3 separate regions of the Homo sapiens genome follow, and all the other regions are linked to region 1. Evidence: fine-mapped expression QTL. A gene starts in region 1. Each other region holds a variant in brackets. All regions are shown on one strand. Distances are from middle to middle. Region 1 holds the start of GPA33 (glycoprotein A33). Region 2 overlaps STYXL2 (serine/threonine/tyrosine interacting like 2). Region 3 overlaps GPA33 (glycoprotein A33).

The links. PIP is the estimated chance that this variant, and not a neighbour inherited with it, causes the effect.
Region 2: its variant is the best candidate, but not a certain one, in a credible set for the expression of GPA33 in lung (GTEx, PIP 0.52).
Region 3: its variant is the best candidate, but not a certain one, in a credible set for the expression of GPA33 in cerebral cortex (GTEx, PIP 0.67).

Annotation. Positions count from the first base shown.
Region 1 is chr1:167,087,836-167,093,058 of GRCh38, reverse strand. It overlaps GPA33 (glycoprotein A33), which reads left to right and starts at 2,682. Exons shown (of 7, transcript NM_005814.3): 1 at 2,682-2,814. The coding sequence starts at 2,772. It overlaps LOC124904451 (a long non-coding RNA gene), which reads right to left and starts at 4,459. Exons shown (of 3, transcript XR_007066717.1): 1 at 4,375-4,459; 2 at 3,648-3,736; 3 at 1,678-2,273. RefSeq lists an enhancer at 2,507-2,656.
Region 2 is chr1:167,112,603-167,117,825 of GRCh38, reverse strand. STYXL2 (serine/threonine/tyrosine interacting like 2) reads right to left here. Exons shown (of 6, transcript NM_001080426.3): 3 at 4,022-4,116; 4 at 267-498. Among named protein-coding and RNA genes, the nearest start is that of STYXL2, 21 kb to the right of the region's middle. The variant G/A (reference allele first, on the strand shown) is at 2,219.
Region 3 is chr1:167,057,598-167,062,820 of GRCh38, reverse strand. The region is part of intron 4 of GPA33 (glycoprotein A33); the gene reads left to right. GPA33-AS1 (GPA33 antisense RNA 1) reads right to left here. Exons shown (of 6, transcript XR_922249.3): 2 at 4,394-4,514; 3 at 2,075-2,193; 4 at 58-150. Among named protein-coding and RNA genes, the nearest start is that of GPA33-AS1, 7.5 kb to the right of the region's middle. The variant A/G (reference allele first, on the strand shown) is at 2,566.

The sequences.
Region 1 (5,223 bases):
TCATCCATTTATCCATCCATTTACCAACTTAAAATATTCATTGATTACCTACTACATATGACACTTTACTTGACCAAAATTGGCAAAACACATAGCTTAAAGTTGTCTTTCTTCCTAGTTAGGTGGAATGATGCCTGGTATATCGTATCATTAGAAATGGCTGAATGAATGAGCTCACTGTTTATTAGGAGGAATGAGACACAGACCAAAAATAACTCAAGCATAAGAGAGAATGTAGTTAGTGTCCTAAAAGAGATCCAGAGTGCTGTGTGAGTTCAAAGGTGAGAAAGAGCCCTTCTGACTGAAGAAATCAGGAAAGACTTCATAGAAGCAGTGGTGATATATGAGCTGACTTCTAAAGGACAAGTAAGATTATAATAGCAGATATAGTAGGGGAAGGGAATTACCGAGGGGGTGGCATCAATAAAGTTTTGGGGGTAAGGAAGTATGAGTTCTGGGTATGAAAATATGTCTAACTTGGTCAGAGCATAAATTACGTATTCTGGAAGGTAGACTGTGTTTGAGAACAAATGCTAGAATACCTTAAAAGCTAATTTGTTAGGTTCTGCAGAGTCAGTGATAGGACCCAAGCAGACAAGTAATTAGGAAGACTAATTTGGCAAAGATATTATAAAATGTTGGGGCTGAACAATTATTACATATAATAAGAGAATTAACAAGGTGCCTGAGTGAAATGTAATAAACAGAAAACAACAAATTTTGTATGTCAACCAAACCTAGCAGTCAAAAGGATTAATAACAATAAGTCATGTAGGATACTATGAATTCATAACACAAAGAAATGCTAGGGGAAATATTTGCAATGCTTATCACATCCAAAAGTTCCTTTCCCTAATATACAAAGATCTGCTAGAAGTCAACAAGCTAAAGATCAACAGCTCAATAGAAATATGGCCAAACGGCTGGACGTGGTGGCTCATGCCTGTAATCCCAGCATTTTGGGAGACTGAGGCAGGATTGCTTGAGCCCAGGAATTCAAGACCAGCCTGGTCAACGTAGCGAGATTCTGTGTCTATATTTTTAAAAATTTATTAAAAAAAGAAATACGGGCAAATGAGCTACCTAGTCTCAGAAAAGAAAATATATATGATGTGCAACTATATTAAAAGATTTTCAATTTCACTAATAATTTTTTTTTTTGAGACAGAGTCTTGCTCTGTCGCCCAGGCTGGAGTGCAGTGGCACCATCTTGGCTCACTGCAAGCTCTGCCTCCCGAGTTCACCATTCTCCTGCCTCAGCCTCCCAAGTAGCTGGGATTACAGGCGCACACCACCACACCTGGCTAATGTTTTGTATTTTTAGTAGAGGCGGGGTTTCACCGTGTTAGCCAGGATGGCCTCGATCTCTTGACCTCGTGATCAGCCCACCTTGGCCTCTCAAAGTGCTGTGATTACAGGCGTGAGCCACCGCGCCTGGCCAAATTTCACTAATAATTTTAAAAAGTAAATTATATATACATGGGATATCATGTTCACTTAGATTGGCGATGAGCAGAAAGTTTGATAACTGTGTCATAAACACTTGGTAACTGTGTTAGTGAGTGTGTGGGGAGATAGGTATCCTTATATGCTGCTAATAGGAGTGTAGGCTGTAAAATTCTCATGGTAGCTAGTTTAGCAATATCTATAAAAATTACAAATATGCATAACTTTCAGTGAGTCAGAAATTTTACTTTTAAGAATTTATCTTACATGTATAATCACAACACGTGTGAAATATCGTACACATAATAGATATTGGTTGCAATCTTTTCATAGTTGTGAAAGATGAGGAAAAACAATCTTAAAAGTAGTTTGGTTAAATAAATCATGTCACTCATATACAGTGAAATATCATCCCCATTTTAAAAAGATGATGGTGGTGGTGCTATACATACCGATACAGAAAGCTTTCTAAAACCTTTCATTAAATGAAAAATGAATAAATCATTGCAGAACAGTGTATATATATCTAAAATATCTATGGAAGAAACCAGCAACAGCCACTGCTCCTGGAGAATTATGGTCCCACACCACTGATCATTCTTTCAGTAGGGTGACCATCATCCAAATTTGCTTGGGACTGAGGGGGTTCCTTTTGGTTTGAAAACCAGGACAGTCCTAGGAAAAGTGAGACAAGTTGGTCACATGTCCCCAAGATGATCTTCTTTCACTTATGAACTTGCTACTTTCCCAGTCAGAATATAAACTCTGAAGGGGGAGACTTCCTGTTTTCTTCATGACTATATCTCTTGCGCACTGTGGGGTGGAGGCTGTAGAAGAGGAGAGAAGTAGAGAAACAGATCACATTGTGTCTTGAAGTGTTTCAGCAAATATGGGCAACACCCTTCTTTTACTAGCTTGGAACCCTACCTCTGAGTGCATTTCCCTTTTTATTATTTATTTCCTGTCAGTTATAAGAGAGGCCTACCCCTTTGTGAGCAGTCTAGGACTTTGTACACTTGTTAAGTAGGGAGAAGGCAGGGGAGGTGGCTGGTTTAAGGGGAACTTGAGGGAAGTAGGGAAGACTCCTCTTGGGACCTTTGGAGTAGGTGACACATGAGCCCAGCCCCAGCTCACCTGCCAATCCAGCTGAGGAGCTCACCTGCCAATCCAGCTGAGGCTGGGCAGAGGTGGGTGAGAAGAGGGAAAATTGCAGGGACCTCCAGTTGGGCCAGGCCAGAAGCTGCTGTAGCTTTAACCAGACAGCTCAGACCTGTCTGGAGGCTGCCAGTGACAGGTTAGGTTTAGGGCAGAGAAGAAGCAAGACCATGGTGGGGAAGATGTGGCCTGTGTTGTGGACACTCTGTGCAGGTGAGTAGGCCCCTTTTCTCTCCAGTGCCCAGGGGTGGGTGAGACATGGGGACCTAGGGCTGAAGGAGAGGCTCTGTCAGAGCCTTCCCAGGAAGGGCCTCCAGCAACACAGCTGCGTTCCTGCTGGGCCAGAATTACACATTCCGGACCAGTGCCCAGAATCAGAATGGTTTTTATTTACATATTAGTAAATAACATTCTAGCCCACTGCTGAAATGAAGAATTCAAAGTACTCTCAAGACCATATTTTCTTATCCCAAATTAGATTATAGGATCAGACACAGGATTTGACAATGTGGACAAAGTATTTGAAATCGGAGTTGTCCTAGAAAATCCAGGATGTGTGGATCTAGATATGTTCATTATCTAGTATATTAACGTTTGTGTTAAAACCAGAGAAAGAGACAGGAAACTGAGGCAGAAGAGACAATGCAACTTATCCCGTATCATTCACAGAGCAAGAGAAGATTCAAACCCTAAAAACAAACAACAAACTAGATGGGTCTTTTCCAAAGGCCAAAGCTCCTTGCCACTTCTGGGACCCTGGTCATTGAAAATTCTGGGACTCTGAGCATTTCCCTCTGGGAGGGAAACCTCCCAGAACAAAATCAGACATTCATGAGTATATGGTTGAATCCACATCAAGTGCTTAATAGCACAGTGTTCTGTGGGGACCTATGGAGTGTCTAAGGGTTAGAATGAAAGTCTTGGCATTAAGGTACCAACCATTTTGCTGGGCATTGGAAGGAAATAGAATGGAGAGAAGGAAGTTGAGAGACGCAGGGTTTGGCAAAGTTTAGGAATATCTTTGGTTTAGTGTATTTGGCCATCACCTTGCAATTCAGACACTGTTGAGGGCTTCCAGGATCCAGCTGCAACGGGGAGGAGAAGAGCTATACCAGGAAACTCAGGAGCACCAAGCCTGGGGAAGTGGAAACCAGGAGACTGGTTTAGAGCTCACTTTTTAGCATACACAGGAAAGCCCCGGGCCACGGGGCCTACAGCTCATTCTGGTTCTCCCAGGCCCTAGACATGCTTTTCTCTCAACACCTGGCCTTGGGGCTCTCGAGGGAAGGGCAGCCTGCTGCTGGGGAAGGGCTGGATCACACGGTTTGGAGGAAGATCTGGGTAAGATCATTCTCTCAGGCTGGCTCAAGTTCATCTGACTGAAGGCAGAAAGCCCCTCATCATCCACCAAGATGGACTGGTTGGCTCATTCCTTTATCCAAACAACTCTTTACTGAGCACATAGTTTGTGCAGGTGCCATAGAAGTGAGGAGTCTGGAATGATTAGTCATAAGTGGGCCTATCTCAGCCATCAGATTCAGGCAGGGAGGATGCTCCAGGGCCTGAGAGAGGGAGGCTGAAGGAAATACCCATCCTTCCCTGGCTGGGCCAGTGATTCTCCCATCTTCTCCTGGTAAGCCAGAAGCTCCTCCATGCCTGCACCACCCCAACCCCCAACACATATCCCCACACTTGTAGACTGGCTGCGACCCATGCATGAATAAAAATAAGAAATTTTGGCTTAGAAAAACGATCTTAAAACAAGATGCTCACCCAGCTTGGAGGGAAAAGTGGCCGTAACTCTGAATTGCCTGGAGCAGGACATTTTGCTTCTTCCTATGAGAAGGCAAGTGACCCCTGGGGAACTCACCCAGCAGAACGAGTCTTGGGCATGTTTTCAGACACACTGATGAAGTGTCTTCTACCTCCGCCCCATCCCTCCCACCACAGCCTGCCCAGCACAGAATCACGTGCCCACCAACTTTTCTTCCTCCATATCTTACATTAAGAGGAAGAAGGGGCCAGAGCAGTGGGGCAGGAGAAGCCAGGCTTGGTGGTCGACTTGAGGTATATAAACAGAGTTTACCAAATAGTGAAATAGCCATTGCCACTGCAGGTGAGCAAGGAAGACCTTCAAAGGTCGACCAAAAGCAACCAGGCGGCCCTCCCCACCATGCCTCATGAGAGGATACCACCTCTTCCTTTGCGCAGGTAAGGGAGACCCAGTTAGGAGCAGGGACATTAGGAAAGGCTTCCTGGAGGAGGTGGAGCTTGACTTGGGTTCCAGAGGACTTACTGGGCTTTTCTCTTCTTTCTCTTCCCATCTGACCTTTCCGAGGAATTGATTCTGCTAAGACCTGGGCAGGGAAGCACTGCACTGATGAATGGGCCTCAAGACTCAAGTGGTGTTGGAGGAAGCAGAAGCTATTCATAAGGTTCCATGCAGGGGGCACAAACGCAAGGCCGTGCTTTTAAAGTAGGGAGTTTAAAAGCAATCATAAAACCGACTAAAAGTTGGTCTGCTTTGTGTGTGTGTGTGTGTGTGTGAGACAGAGTCTGGCTTGCTCAGGCTGGAGTGCAGTGGTGTGATCTCAGCTCACTGCAACCTCCGCCTCCCAGGTT
Region 2 (5,223 bases), 25 kb before region 1:
GAGGCCCAGAGGCCTTCTTGAGGGACAAGAGAGTCCTGGCAAGAGGGCAAAGGATAAGCAGTCATGGCGGCATCTTGCCTGGAGACCTCCGAATGCAGGTGGATGGAGGGGCCTTTCTCTGGGCTGGGGCAGGGTAAGTGGCTAGGCAGCCTCATTGTGCTGGATGGACCTATGGGCGCCTTTGGTGAAAGTTGGGGGAGTTTCGTCTGTCTCAGGCACTAACCAGAGGGTTAGGACAAAGGGTCATGAAGAGCAGTCAGACTCACTTCTCAGCTATGAAGACATTGGGCCAGACCTCATCCACCTCATTCCAGGGCGCCTCTTGGCGATCCTGAACCAGGGCCCGCTGTAGGTCCAGGACACAGGGCGTATTATAGAGGCTGGTGTCATCCATCTTCTCCCTGACGCGGTTGTACAGGTCCTCCACCAGCAGCTGTTCAGCAGACTCCAGCATGCCTGGACACTCTGCGTCTGCTCTGACCCCCGGTGGCTTGAGTTCTAGAGGAGACAGGCAGCATTCTCATCAGAGAGTTAGGAACATCATGGCCTTCCTTGTTCCTGGGGAGAACATGCTCTTGGCCAGTTTGCTGCCAGGATTCTGGGCATGGACTGAATGCCAGCAGGATCTCCCAGGAAGGACTTTAATTGGGCCCAGGGTACCTGCTGCACTGGCCCAAACACTTGTAATCAGGGTCAGCAAGAAGACTGTATAGATGTGGGTAAAGGGGATCCAATTTCTTTTACTCCCTCCCATGCTTCTCTGAAGCTGGTCGATAATTTTTTAGACCAAGTTCCTTAAGTATTAGGTGTACTTTGATTCATACTTAATAACTCCCACAGTGCCCAGTACAAAGTGGATGCTCAGAAGTGTTTACCAGCCAGGCGTAGTGGCTCACGTCTGTAACCCCAGCACTTTGGGAGGCCAAGGTGGGCAGATGACCTGAGGTCAGCAGTTCAAGACCAATCTGACCAACATGGTGAAACACTGTCCCTACAAAAATACAAAATTAGCCAAGCGTGGTGGAGAGTGCCTGTAATCCCAGCTACTTGGGAGGCTGAGGCAGGAGAATCACTTGAACCTGGGAAATGGAGGTTGCAGTGAGCTGAGAGCATGCCATTGCATTCCAGCCTGGGCAAAAAGAACGAAACTCTGTCTCAAAAAAAAAAAAAAAAACCAAAAAAAAAAAAGTAGAAGTATTTACCAAATGAGTGAATGGCATTCATTCATAGTATAATTCACTCTGTTAGTTTGACTCTTTTACATATGGATTGCAAATAACCCTGGGAAAAGTAAAACTTTCAGCAGTAATTTATGCAATATTGCCTTCTAATATACACCTAATTTACTGATTTATTTCTTGTATTGTCTTCTTCCCCCTACTAGAATGTAAGGACCTATGATTCTCAGCCTCCCAGCCCACAGACAGGTGGCAAAGGTTGGCCATGAGCTCTCATTCTAATCTCAAAACGTGACTCAGGGCCTTTCTGACAACAGGTCAGAAAAGCTCAAACTCCAGATGAACTCAAACCCCAATTCACTCACATCTGGGGTGAATCTTTATCTTCTAATAATATATTTGCTCACAGTTTATCAAATTTGGGGAAATGTAAGATGCTTTCTTTCTTTAAGTTAGACAAAAATAACAAAGAACAAAATCGTTCCTCTCACATGGTAGCCAAAATACTGAATAGAGAGAGAGAGAGAAAAGAAGCTGGAAAGATGTTTCCTCTGTGTTCCCCATAGCCTCTTGATGGCACCATCTCTTCCCTGATGGGCAGTCTCTGGGTGGGGGCTGCAGAGAGTCCAGCCACATTTGGAAGGTAGACTTGGTCCAGCCCCTCGTGGAATCTGCTCCTCCCAGGGGTCTGTAAGCAGGGCTTGTTGCTCATGGACTGCAAATCCAGGGAGCCTTGGGTTCTGCCTAGGGCTCAGGATTTCATTTCCCTTCTCTCTTCCCTCCTCTAACCCCCCTGAGGGACCCCCACATCCCTGCATCAGGGCTCAGCTCTAAACGTTCTCTGATCTCCGTTTCAAACGCAGAAAGAAGAAAACTCCTGCAATCCCAGAGCTCTATTTTGTTTAAAAATAGATGAAGTGTTCCTATTTTCTCCACTACCCAGTTTTCTCCCCTGGCTCTCCTGGGGTCTTTCATAGCAAATTCAGTCCGCTCCCCTTCCCGTGTCTACTTAGATGTCTTTCCCTTACTACATATAAAAA[G/A]TGGGACTCCTGACACCTCATTAAAATACACGGTGTTGTCTTCCTCGGCTATTTATCTAGCAGGTTGTTGTTTCCATTTCTTTTCTTTTCAATTTAAAAACAAATGTCCCAGCCCTTCACCCCTGATGGCAACTCCTGCTTTCACTAGGTCTCTGGTTCACACTTCAGCCTCTGTAGAGCTTGCCTCTCTCCCTGCATCAATTTCTTTCTATTACCTGACATTTCTTCAGCAGAAAGTAAAGCCCACACATTTCTCCCCTACACTCTCGGATGTGTGGCATATGCAGACTTTCATTAAAACGGAAGGTTTTCAGCACACATTTTTACCCCTGTAATCACTAGTGAGCATATATTGTTTTTTCTCTCCCTATAGCCCTTCAGCCACTAAGGCTAATGAAACTTAGGTTTGATGCCCCCAGAGAAGGGAAGAATAGAAAAGAGCCAGGATAAAACAAGGCATTGCACATCTTTTGGCTTCAAACTAGACTGAATGTCCATAGCATTCTATAGACTTGAAAGTGAAGCTTTCAAAGAGAGAAAATGTTTTTTATTTTTTTTCTCCCCTCAATTCCTAAAGCTGGACTTTTACTTATCAAGAACCAAAACATGGAGAATGGTCCACAGAATGAAGCACAAAGCAGAGATGATGCAGAGTGGAAGGTTAGGGAAATTTCCAACCACAAAAGAGGAAGAAAAGACTTTCTAGAGCTATAGTGGTGCTGGGAGCAATTCAGAGAGAACTGGACCAGGGTGAAGACACTGCCTGGGTTAGTGGGCAAGATATCTTGGGACAAGATATCTTGGAGCAAGACAACAGAGACCCCAGGTATGGAAGAAAAAGAAAAAAAATCCCCCAAAGCAGATGGGTCTTTGAGAAGATGGGGCCTCCTAGAGTGCCCAGAACAGTGAGCAACAGCAAGTCAAATTTCTGGTTCTATGTGAAGTGTGCAAGAGGTCCAAATGTCCTCTAGAGACCCTGGTGGAGACCCAAATGGGTCAGGGGACCAGTACCAGAGTTAGAATGGACAAAGAGTAGCATGTGATTCTAATAATGAAAGACCAAGGAAAGGATTGTGGCCACCAGCGGTGGTTGAGAGATTAAGCCCAAAGGCCAGCTGGGCCCTGCTTCATCAGTGTGCACTTTATCCCACTCCACCCCATCTCACCAGAGTTGTGAGGCTACCCAGGGAGAAGGGAGAAGAAAGGGGAAGAAAGAAATTGCAAAAGATTATTTCCTTAAAATTGATTAGAAAAAAATTCATCTAATCCAGATAAGTATCTTTGAGTGAAAAATAACTATATGTTGTCTGCTTCAAAATTTTACTGTGTAAATATTAACATATTGAATATTGGGTGCTCCCCACCCAAGCCTTTCCCTCCTCCCCATGCATCCTTCAGTTTGAAGCATCTTTAAGCACTGGTGGAAGTGCAGGTCTAAGTCTAGACTCCCTTGGAAGAGAACCCTCTGGATGCTTCTGGCCATTTCTCGGGCTCTCAGGTCTGTGCCTCTGCCATAAGCCACCTCAGGACCCCTGAGGTAACCAAAAATTGAGCAGGAGGCCCTAGGGACAGATTGGTGCTGCCTCTCTGGTTGTCCCTGTTCACACTGATGCATAATTATTTCCACTTCCATCCTATCAAAGTTGAGGAGGTAGGGTTGGCAGAACTGCCTTCTGCAGATCTGCTCTTCCTAACGTGATGGGCAGCACCTGAGAGGCACATTGACGTCTTCCAATGGCCCCCCTCTAAGGGTCTCCAGATGACCACTGGACTTTGCTTCCACCCAGCTTTTGATTGCATTACCTTCATTGATGATCTGTTTGGCTGCAATGGCTGAGGAGAGGTGAATGGGTTCCATGAAAATGCTTTCTGTTTCTGCATCTGAGACCATCGAATACCTAAGGGAAGAGGATATTCACGTGAGATAAGCCTGTAGCATCTGAACTGAAGGCATTCTTTTAGATGAGAAACCTGGCTTTGATTTTAGCAACAAGTGGGGAACAACGAGTGATCAAGGCAAAGCCTTCCTAAGTTTAAGGACCCAAGAATACAGAACACTGGGTATCATGTGACTCAGATGCCCACCCATTTTCAGATCACAGTTGGCACTGATGGTGTGTGATGTTTAATGACATGGTGGTCTATGTTGTGGAGGCAAGAGCGTACATCTACGCTTGGGGGAACCCACCCTGATGTGGCTTCACTTTCTTGGATGTCCCGCTGCTCATTTTAAAAATTTTGTCTCCTTTTCCTCTGCTATCAATCTACAGGGTGTCCTTAATTTTGCCTCTGCCAGTCTTCTGCTGGACTGCTGGGCTGAATAGGTTGCCACCACTCTTTCTGTTCCCTTTGTTCTCCATTCCTTCTCCCTGTTTGTAAGGGAATGGGCTAATGATGAAGAACTGGCATAGCACCAAGTGCAATGCTAAAGATGAACTCAAATGCACGGGTACTGATTCTGAGCACATGAAATCGAGAGTCAGGTTGAGCCCAGGGATGCAAAGAAAGTAACTTGGGTAAATGTCATGGCAATTTCCCAAAAATAATTCGGTGCAGTTGTCAAAAAAGACCTTTAGGAACATGGAGAATCTACAGCAGACACAAGACCTGGGACTGCACTATGGCGGTGGGGATGGGACCACACCATAGTTCACTAGTAAACAACTTTCTAGTGAGTTGTCCTGTTCTCCAGGTGTTCAGATGAGCTTTGGGTCATTTTCTTTTTTCTGCTTAGTCTTTCCTATAGGTCCATAGAGGGAGGATTTAATGGATACCATTTGTGAGTGCCTTCTATGAATTTAATTCTGACAAACCCTCCACAAATTAGGTATTATTTTTATTCCTGCATTACCGATGAGAAAATTGTGGCTCAGAAAGGTTAAGAAAATTGCCTAAGGCAGTAAGTAAATGGCAGGGCTAAGTTGAGAACATAGGGCAGTCCTGCTGTAGGTCCAGTGTTCTCTCCACAATACACAGATACCATTTAGATTAGAACAGGGAGGTGG
Region 3 (5,223 bases), 30 kb after region 1:
CACCACCGTTTTATGGCTCCACACAACGACAGCACCATGTTGCTGTAAGGGTCCCACCTTCTTAGGGGAGGCGATGGTGGATTCAGCTATAGTTGCCAGGAGACCAGTTTTGTACTGGGCAGCTTGGTATTGGACCTTTCAGTCAGGAAACTGAAAAAAAAAAAAAAAAAAAAAGAAAGAGCTATATAAAAATCCTACCATCCTTTCCACACCCAGAGCCAATGGGTGTGGAAATACCCTGGTGGAGTCCCAGGGCCCCTAGTGCCACCCCTGCTCCTGAGGATCAAGAAAGACAAGGCTTGCTGGGTGCCGTGGCTCATGCCTGTAATCCCAGCACTTTGGGAGGCTGAGGCAGGAGGATCACTTGAGGCTAGGAGTTCAAGACCAGTCTGGGCAACATTGTGAGACCCCTGTCTCCAAACAAAATTTTTAAAAAATTAGCTGGGCATGGCAGGACTCACCCTTTAGTCCCAGCTACTCAGAAGGCTGAGGTGGGAGGATTGCTTAAGCTCTGGAGGTCGAGGCTGCAGTGAGCCATGATCACACCACTGCACTCCAGCCTTGGTGACAGAGCGAGACCCTGCCTCAAATAAAATAAAATAAAATAAAGTAAAATAAAATAAAATAAAGTAAAATAAAATAAAATAAATAAAATATTTTTTAAAAAGAAAGACAAGGCCTGAAAGGTGTCCATCCGATTTAGCTTCTGGGAGGTCTTTCAGTTCAGTGTAGGTGGAAAAGGAGGCCAGAGGTGGAAAGCAAAGCCAGCAGGGCACACAGCTCTTCTGAGAAGATGAGGTGCCCCGGGGGTGGGGATGAGGACCCGGGGGAAGAATATCTGGTGTCCTGGATAAGCCCAGCCGGACGGATGCACACATTGGGGGTGCACTCAATCCAGGAAGAGCTTTATCACTCGTTTGGGGGCAAATCGACTTCTTAAAAAAGTTAGTAGACACTTTGGGAGGCTGAGGCAGGCGGATCACGAGGTCAGGAGATCGAGACCATCCTGGCTAACACGGTGAAACCCCGTCTCTACTAAAAATACAAAAAATTAGCCGGACGTGGTGGCGGACGCCTGTAGTCCCAGCTACTCCGGAGGCTGAGGTAGGAGAATGGCGTGAACCTGGGAGGCGGAGCTTGCAGTGAGCCGAGATCGCGCCACCGCACTCCAGCCTGCAGCCTGGGCAACAGAGCGAGACTCCGTCTCAAAAAAAAAAAAAAAAAAAAAAAAAAACAGTTAGTAGAATCCACTCGACCTAACTTAAAATAGGTCAATGTAATGTAGGTTTTCAACAAGCTTCCAGTTGTGTTTACGTATTTCTGGTTGGCAACTTTTTATCGAGTGTGTCTGGAATTTTTGTTGAAACCACCTGGCAGCTCCCCGGGGGCTCTGTGGCCTCCTCTCTCTGGCCTATGAATAGTCTAGTGACTCCAGCCATGGTCATGGTAGGTGTGCTGTGGACACTGGTAGTGTCTGATCTTCTTTCCTGCAAAGTGTGTATATGGAGACCCAAAGCTGAAGGTTACAGGTGGCAGATGCTATAATAGCTTTATACCCAGTGGTGATGTAACACAGAAGATGCATAAGAAGATCAAAGAAGGTTTCTCCAAGGAGTGGGTATTGGAGTCGACAGTGGTTAAGAGCATGCCATGGGCTTGACTCCTGGCTCGGACACTTGTTAGCTGTATGACCTTGGCAAGTGACTCAGCTTCTTTGTGCCTTAGGTTCTATGTCTATGAAATGGGTACAATGCTAGTGTTTACTTCATAGGGTTGTGAAGATTAAATAAAAGTAGATGTGAAGCATTGAGACTAGTGCCTGGTAGGCAGTAAGCACTCATTTAATGCTAAGTGTTATTAGCTGTTATTTGAGTTGGGTCCTCAAGGATGAGGAGGCTTGGCATGGAGAACAGGAAGGAATCATGACTGTCTGGTGTGGCTAAGGGGTAGGGTGCGTGTGTAGGTGTAGGAATGGTGGGAGATACTCTTGTTAAGAAACACAGTGATGAGAAATCATGAAGAGCCTGTGCGTTACGCTAGGGAGGTTCGTCTTTGCCCTGTAAGCCACGGGTACCTTCTGAGGAGCCTCACAAAGGGGCAGCCCAGCTGCAGTTCTCTCCTGCCTCCACAGGGAGACTCTTCTGGTTGTTAGAAGCCAAAACTTAGTTCTTTCATTATCCAAAAGGGAGAATCCTGAGGACAGGAAAGGAGGTGAAAAGAGAATTGCTTCTTTAATTTGTGAAAGCTTTAATTTGTGAAAGCTTTATCCTGTCTCTAGTTAAGATTTGCTGAGTCAGAATGGGGACCTGCAGGTGACAGAAAAGAATATGGTTAATGTCCATAACAACATGCCCTGGCATCTGGAGACATTGCGGGGTGAGGGCAGAGTTCTCAAAGCCTTCGTTTCCACTCTGCTTTGCAGAGCCTTGGAGAATCTGCCAATTCTGGCCAGGTGCAGTGTGGCTCATGCCTGTAATCCCAGCACTTTGAGAAGCTGAGGCGGGTGGATCGCTTGAGTACAGGAGTTCGAGACCCACCTGGGCAACATGGTGAAACCCTGTCTCT[A/G]CCAAAAATACAAAAATTAGCCTGGCATGGTGGTGTGTGCCTGTAGTCCCAGCTACTTGGGAGGCTGAGGTGGGAAGATCCTTGGGCCTGGAAGGCAGAGGTTGCAGTGAGCCAAGATGGTGCCACTGCAGCCTGGGCACTAGAGCCAGATCTTATCTTAAAAACACAAAACAAACAAACAAAAAATAAATAGAGAGAATCTGCTAATTCTTCTTCCTCTGTGGGTCAGCCCAAATTATTTCTGGCTTTTAAAACATTTCAGTCCACCATGGACGATTTGGAGAGGAGGGTACCTCTGCTCTCCTACATCTGAAGACAATTTCCAACATTAGAGATTCATTCCTTTGACTAAACCCTCAGTGGAAACAAGCTAGCAGTGAAAAGAACAGGGAATCCAGAATCAGGAAACAAGAAGTCCTGACTTCTCCACTTTGGAGCTGTGAGTCACTCACAGCCTCTCGGACCCTTAGTACTGCCCTTTGAAAAAAACTGGGATTCCCCAAAAGCTGTGAAGAGGATGAGAGGAGATCCCATGTGTAATAGCTCTGAACAGACTTTGTAAGCTGTGTCCCAGGAAGCTGAGTTTCATGCACTGAAGAAACAGGAATTTGGATATCAAGGAAGTGGGGGAGGGGGTAGTTCTGGGGCCTGGAGCACTTAAGGGGAGGCGGTTGTGAAGGGTGGGGACCAGTCCAAGGAGGATCGTGAGGGCCCTTTGTGAGAGAGAGGTGGCAGCAGGGGCTTGTCGACAAGCTACAGGATTGGGTAGGGGTTGGGGGGATGCGGAAACGTTAGGTCTTGTCAACGTGACATTAGCGTCTTGGTGAGACAGGAGGTTCTCTTGAGGGGAATCTCTCCACAGCTGGAGCAGAGGAAGGTGGGAAGCGTATGACCGTCCTGTGCATTCCCCTTTCTGACCACAAGGTGTCGCCACTGCAGCGGAAACATTAGTTTTCTCCGGATATCAGAAATTACTAGTCCCTTTCCGAAGGAAAAGGGGCTTGGGAGCCCCAACTCGGAATCAAAGAAGGTCCTGTGGCACAAGACCTGCACTGGTTCATCCCAGCAGCTTCCAGTGCACACGGTTTGCATCAGGGAACTGGGGGAGGATAGCGCTGACTCATTGGACTAGGAAACCCCATGTTCCCCACCCTAAACAAGGCCTAGAGCTCAAAGCTGGACTCTGACAACTAAAAAAGTCCTGACTGTCTGCAGTGTGCTGCCTACACTAAATCCAGAGTCCGAGCTTCACACTCTTAAGTGGTGGGGATCTGTTATGAGCTCTAGACCTCCTAAGTATGCCCAGGGCCATAGAGCATTTCCTAAAGTGTGTTCCTTCAAGATGCCTCTTAAAAATAACAAATCCGATTCATTTAGCAAATGAGAGCATGAATACCACACCCCGCTGTCAGAAGTTCCCAGTGCTCAACAGCATTGTAGGAGCTCTGAAAGTGCTGCCCTTAGAAAGATTACTTAATCCTAACTCAGTGATTCCTAAACTTGCTTTTTTAGGGACTCCTTCTCCATGCCGCATGTTAATATCACATGTAAACAATGTTCCAGAAAACATACTGAGGCGTGGAATTCTAGGATAGAAGGGGACACATTTTATGAAGAATGAGCATCCAGAGAGTAGTGTCCTGGGGGTCAAGGGAAGAATTTGAAGAAAGTACAAGTGAAAAGACTGAAAGAAAATAGCACCAAATCAAAGTGTTATTTATAGGTGATGGAATTATGAATGATTTTTATTTGTTCTCTCTTCTTTAAAGAGGCATTCCTTGGCCCTTTGGATGAGATTAAAACCCCTTGCCATAAGCTCAGATAGTACCTCCATCTTGAACTGTAACCATCATTGTTTCATGTCTGTCTTCTTTGGGAGACTGGAAACACCAAGAGGACAGGGACCCTCCTCATCTCGTTTATAGCTGTGATCAGCAGCTAAAGATTTTCTGTATTGAATTGAATTGAAATAATAGTTTTATATCATTTATAAATTATTATAAGGAGCATACATTGCTTTTATCATACAAAATTTTATTTTTATACATATTTTTTTCGAGATGGAATCTCGCTTTGTTACTCAGGCTGGAGTGCAGTGGTGCGATCTCAGCTCACTGTAACCTCCACCACCCAGGTTCAAGCGATTCTTTTGCCTCAGCCTCCCAAGTACCTGGGACTAGAGGCGCACACCACCATGCCCGGCTAATTTTTATATTTGTAGTAGAGACGGGGTTTCACTGTGTTAGTCAGGCTGGTCTCGAACTCCTGACCTCAAGTGATCTGCCCGCCTTGGCCTCCCAAGGTGCTGGGATTACAGGCGTGAGCCAATGTACCCGGCCACAAATTTTTAAAAGAAAATTATCAATGGCTCCAGGGAGTTCTAGACCTGAAACAGGATTTTTGTTCCTGTTTTATAATTTCTTAATTTTGTGACCTTGAGCAGTTCACTTAACTTCTTTAAGCCTCCAGTTAACTCCATGAATTGGAGATTGAAATATTGAGGATTGCTGGAAGGATGAAAGGACATCACATTTGAGGATGTGTACTGAGCAGCACATCCGGAGAAGGAAAATCTTGAGATGCAATCTTGCAGGAAAGTGACGGTGGGGCGGAGAGAGGACAACTCCCCTGGTTTTGCCCCTAGCACCAAGTGGCAAG